Homo sapiens: one gene and its partner. The protein of the gene in region 1 interacts with the protein of each later gene in a pairwise test. Each region holds a gene or a part of one and is shown in the gene's direction. Other genes may lie near its edges.

Region 1 (3,500 bases):
TATGTGTACAAAATTTGATATGTAGATTAAAATTTGATGTGTAAGTTTAAATGTTATTTTATAGTGTGCTTTGTAATAATTCCTTTAAATAAACATTTCATGTGCCACTAACATTTGATTTTGACTAATAAACACTAGGATGTATAACTTCTTGTTACTGATATTTTAAGGATTCAGTTATTCTAAATCCTTTATTAATTTTAAGCAAAATTGCTTATAAATGTTTTAGGAACAACTGGAAACCTCCAGGAGGGAAATGATTGGGCTTCAGGAAAGAGACAGACAGTTACAATGTAAGAACAGGAATTTGCATCAGCTACTAAAGAATGAGAAAGATGAGGTGAGTTGTCAGTTATTGCAGATGAAGTTTAAGTGAATTTTTGTTTTCTTTGTAATATGAGATGACCATAAGAGCCACTTTACTTGAAAAAAGAAAGAACCATTTATTCATCTTTCCCCAAATTGATATGGTGGACCTTTGTGTAATAGTATTTAACTGGAAGCTCAGGAACCCTCTCCACTACAGACCCCGCCCCCAGTGGATCCATTTGGCTTAGATATTAGTTCATAGCTGGTAACAGCCAGTGTCCTGGACTGCCCTTCCTGGACTCATGTTCACTGTCACTTTTTCTTAGGCACAAGAGTGCTTTAAATGCAGATCTTTTATTCTCTGCTGTACCTGTACGTGATAGCTGAGGTGCCCCTTCTTGCATGCACTGTCTTAAATATTGACATTGTTCGTCTAGTCAACCAGTTTCTTCATTAAATGGGCACAGAAGCAGTTCACATTAAAAATCTAATTTCTGACACAAAAGATACAATTCTGATTTCTGCTTTAGTGGTTACTTAGCAGAATTCTAATTTCTACTTTAGTGGTTACTTGGACCTATAGCACTAATGCATTTCAAAATATATTTTTTAATTTGTGTAGAAAGAAACTATTATGTTTTTATTGCTCTAAAGTATGACCCCTGACCATGTAATAACTATAAAAATATAATACTTAGTTTCAGTGTTTTATATGTTGTTTTAACTACAATTAAAGACTTCTGAGGAGTGTATTTCTTTAAAGCGCCCTGGAGTGGTTTAGATAGATTTGTTTTACCATATTTGTTTATTTAGTAGTATATTTAGTAAGTAGTAGGTAATTAGTATTTAAACTGTAAGGTTGCTTGTACGTGTTTCCTTGAGTTCACAGACAATTTTGACTAGATCTGTTGATTATATTTAAACGGTTTGAATACAGCTCATCTTCGGTAGGGATTAAGTTAATCATGTTGATCCCTAGCAGGGACTGGGAATGGCTTTATAAAAGAATAGGACATACTCTGTCAGGAGTTGCCTGAGAAACTATAATAGATCTAAATTTTGAACAGCAGTGTCTGGCACCTAGTAGATACTCAGCAAATATTTGGACTGGATTATTCTGCTGTTTGGACTTACTCTTACTCGAGAATTGTTTTTAATTAGAAAAACGAGCCTGCTTACCTGCTGCCATGTGTCACAGGCTTAATTCACTTTGTCACAGATTAATAAAAAGTATAAGTGATTGTAAGTCAGTAATACAAGGAGTTCACTAAAAATGATCAGATGAATTCTGTTTATCTCAGATGAAGTTTTAATCGTTTTAATACTTCCATAAGAATATCTGGTTTTTAAATGATCAGAGTCTATATGTAAGGTAAAAGGTATAGGAGATAATTTAGAAAATTAGCGCTTCTGGAAATTTCAGAATTAAAAAAACTTTATGTGATTCATATAATATTTAAAAAAGTGGTTTCTACTGGTTACAAATAAGGAAGAATCATCCTAGGATTTTAAAACCTATATGGGGAGATGAATTTTAGGATTTTTCTCTTTCAAATTTGTGAATCGTTACTGGGCTTATAATAGCAAATGCCTTTTTCAGGTGCAAAAATTACAAAATATCATTGCAAGTCGAGCTACTCAGTATAATCATGATATGAAGAGAAAAGAGCGTGAATATAATAAACTGAAGGAACGTCTACATCAACTTGTTATGAACAAGAAAGATAAGAAAATAGGTAAACAGCTGGCAAAGATCAGCTAAGAGAATAAATAAGCTAATACTATGCTTAGAAATAATTGTAAAAGGATTGAACACAGTAACTCACGAAATGTTATTTTCATGCTTTATACAATTGATTTTCAGTGGTGTTTGTTTATATAAAAAATGTAGACAACTGGTTAGTGGAAAGTAAGTCATTCTGCCTTGCTTTATTTAATTGCATGTATTTTTTAACATGACCAGTGTAGAATTAATCCATAGAGGAAAACTAAGCCAGAGGACATTCTAATTTTCCATAGCAAAGAACTGATAATATTAAAAATCAGTGTCAGTTTCTGAGTATCAAAAGAAGTATTTTAGAGTAAACCTCATAAAATTTTTCATCAGACCAAATCGTTCATGTCAGTTTGAGTTCCTTTAAATAAGTTTAGCTGTACATTTTTGGAGCAGCTAGTCAAAAGGATGGACTATAAAAGTTAGGCGTGTGTGTGTCTAAGGTATACTTTTTTCCTAATAGTAGTCTTTTTCAAAACTTTAAGCCATTTCATCCAAATATGTGGATAATTTCAAGTAGATAGTGTAAATTAAAAAGCAAAGAAACACGAAAGTAGAGCTTTACAATACAGTTTTGCTGGCCTGGTATAAATACGAGGCACAAGAAGTGTGTGTATTTATTTATTGAAGAGTGGTTTCCTAGTGACTATAGGTAGTCCTCTAACATACATTATACCGTGACACCCCTAAACTGTCTTACCTTAGATTTGAAAAACAGGCGATGAGCGTACGTTTCAGGCTGTCATGTGGTAGACTCTGCCTGCTGTCAGCAAGCAGTTTAGTGTTGACTACATCACTGTCATTCTGCAGCAGAGCTGTTGGAGGTATCTGAATACTTTATTTTTTAAATTGTTGAAAAATAGAAATGAAGATTCAGTAATGCGCCGTTAAGATTGGAAATCTTTAGGTATCCTGAGTTAATCTTACTCATTTGGAGAATCATTGGTTTTTAAGTTTAGTTAGCCTCATATTCATTCATGAAGGAAAAAAATTAAAAAGCAGGATGAAATGCTGAAAGTATAAAGTGTAACACAGAGAAGTTTATTAAGGATTTAGTTCTGGAAACAGAGCTCTTCCATTATAGCGGTCTGGCTGTTTCCTGGTCCAATCGGAAGTGACAGTTTCATAATGATTTTATTAACTCTAAGATTATAATAATTTACTCTTTTTCCTTTTTACGCCAAATGTTTCCATGTCCACCTGCAGCAGAAGATATTACTACTATCAGGGGCTTTGACTCCTTTGATGAAAATGATGATGTTAATGTTAACAGGACATGGCAAACTTTTTCTGTATAGATCCATATAGTAAACATTTTCAGCTTTATGGGATCTACAACTTATTTGTTGCACCTACTTATCTCTGCCATTGTAACAAGAAAAGTAGCCATAGGCAGTATATAAACAAGTAGATGTGG
Region 2 (2,257 bases), on another chromosome or scaffold:
TGTTCCAGAGAATCCAGGAGTCCTGCCAAAGTGGCACCAAGTGGCTGGTGGAGACCCAGGTGAAGGCCAGGAGGCGGAAGAGAGGAGCACAGAAGGGCAGTGGATCCCCAACTCACAGCCTGAGCCAGAAGAGCACCCGGCTGTCTGGAGCCGCCCCTGCCCACTCAGCCGCAGACCCCTGGGAGAAGGAGCATCACCGCCTCTCTGTCCGGATGGGCTCACATGCCCACCCATTACGGCGATCAAGGCGGGAGGCTGCCTTCCGGAGCCCCTACTCCTCAACAGAGCCCCTCTGCTCTCCCAGGCAAGTGGGATAGTGCTTCACCCCGGGGCTGGTGGCCTTTTAACCTGGGCACAATCCCTGCTGTCTGACCTCCCAGACACCAACTGGGCCCTAGGGGTTTCTTGGCACCCCCTGTGGCTACCTGGAGCCAGGGGCACCCTGAGCAGCGTCATATTGTATTATTATTATTCTTACTGTTAAATGTGTGTCCTGCTTTAGCAGATATCCAGTGCATGTATTTGCTCATCAGAAAATGAGAAAACAGGCTGGGCGCAGTGGCTCACACCTGTAATCCCAGCACTTTGGGAGGCCGAGGCGGGTGGATCACCTGAGGTCAGGAGTTGGAGACCAGTCTGGCCAACATGGTGAAACCTCATCTCTACTAAAAATACAAAATTGGCTGGGCGTGGTGGTGCACGCCTGTAATCCCAGCTCCTTGGGAGGTTGAGGCAGGAGAATCGCTTGAACTCGGGAGGTGGAAGTTGCATTGAGCTGAGATCGCGCCACTGCACTCCAGCCAGGGCCACAGAGCCAGACCCTGTCTCAAAAAAAAAAAAAAAAAAAAGAGAGAGAGAAAGAAAACAAAACAACAACTAGATTCCTAAGGATTGTATTTCAACTTTCCGGCTGAGTTCTAGGGGGAAATGGAGTGTGTTAGTTAAGGCTGCATAGTAGCTTAGGGCTGTTGAATTTTTCCCCAGATTTCTTTGAGGGCTAGCATCTTTCTTTAGCCTAATAGGAACTTTGAGCTGTAATTAAGGCAGGCTCTGTTTGTCCCATTTGACAGGTAAGGAAACGGAGGTCCGGAGGGGTTTGGTGATTAGCCTGAGGGTCATCCTGTAAGAAATAGAGGAGTAAAGGCTGGGGTCCAGATCATCTGGATGTTCTGCCCCACCGATCAAGCTGGCCTGCCTTGCAGAATCTTCTAGTTCTCAGACAGGCCCAGAAAGTGGCCTGGCTCAGGGCAGGGGGTGAAGCTCATCCCAATCGGCAGTCCCTGGCAGTTTCCTGGTCCCATCTCGGAGCTCTCAGGGAAGGCTGCCTAGCCGCTGCACCTGTGTTGTGGCAGGTAGTCACCAGGATGCATGTAAGTGACCAGGTGGCTCTTTGCAAACCTGTAAGCTAAAATAAGGCTTGTGTACACTTCAAAAATACTCTCCACATCTGTATTCTGACCCGGTTCCGCGTCCAGAGCCAGCAGGGGACCTGAGAAAATCCTTTAGGACCTTAGTTTCTCTGTCCGTAAAGGAAGAGCTGAGTTTAGTTCTGACACAATCACACTCACCCAAGCCTCCTAGTGAGCCCAGAAGCAAGTTTTGAAGCCACCTGGAGAGCTGAGGCTCAGTTTCCAAGTGGGGAAGCTGCAAAATCACTTGCCCGTGACCTTGGCCTCGTGGATCTTGATCTTCTCTCTGTTTGTCGCTCTGAGGTCACCTCCTGGAGTGAGGGTCTGGAGTGAAGCCCAGCCCGCCAGGGTCATCTGGGCCCACAGACCACACCCCGGTACCGGGTTGCAAGGGTCTCCTGCCGGGAGTTTCCAACTAGTCACTGGTGTGGCTTTTTCTTTCATGCAGCGAGTCTGACAGTGACCTAGAGCCTGTGGGGGCGGGAATTCAGCATCTCCAGAAGCTGTCCCAAGAGCTAGATGAAGCCATTATGGCGGAAGAGAGGTGAGTTGGCATCCCATGCTTCAAAGTGAAGGGGCCGGGAGGGCCCCTCCAGCCATCTTTGTAGGCAGGCGTTGGTTCTGCTCTGACCTGCTGTGTGACCCTGGCCAGTCTCTGCCCCTCTCTGGGCCTCAGTCTCCCTCATCTCAAACATGAGAAAGGACAAAATCCTGGACTGGGGTGATGGTAAAGGATGTAGCCTGAATGTGTGTGGTCTTCTGGGCCTTGGGACCCCATGTTTGTCCATCACTTGGAACCTCACGTGTGGCTGGTTCCTGAAAAACCTGCCCTTCCTCCAGAACTCTCC

Evidence for each region. The genes of interacting proteins can lie anywhere in the genome.
Region 2: the proteins of SSX2IP (region 1) and PIMREG interact in binary tests that used the Homo sapiens proteins (3 or more experiments, as listed by UniProt).

What each region holds. Positions count from the first base shown.
Region 1 is NC_000001.11:84,662,962-84,666,461, reverse strand, and holds part of SSX2IP (afadin- and alpha-actinin-binding protein), read left to right. Parts: intron 1-229; coding exon 230-340; intron 341-1,909; coding exon 1,910-2,045; intron 2,046-3,500. UniProt on the Homo sapiens protein: Belongs to an adhesion system, which plays a role in the organization of homotypic, interneuronal and heterotypic cell-cell adherens junctions (AJs).
Region 2 is NC_000017.11:6,447,455-6,449,711, forward strand, and holds part of PIMREG (protein PIMREG), read left to right. Parts: intron 1-8; coding exon 9-304; intron 305-1,568; exon of another isoform or gene 1,569-1,857; coding exon 1,858-1,953; intron 1,954-2,249; coding exon of another isoform or gene 2,250-2,257. UniProt on the Homo sapiens protein: During mitosis, may play a role in the control of metaphase-to-anaphase transition.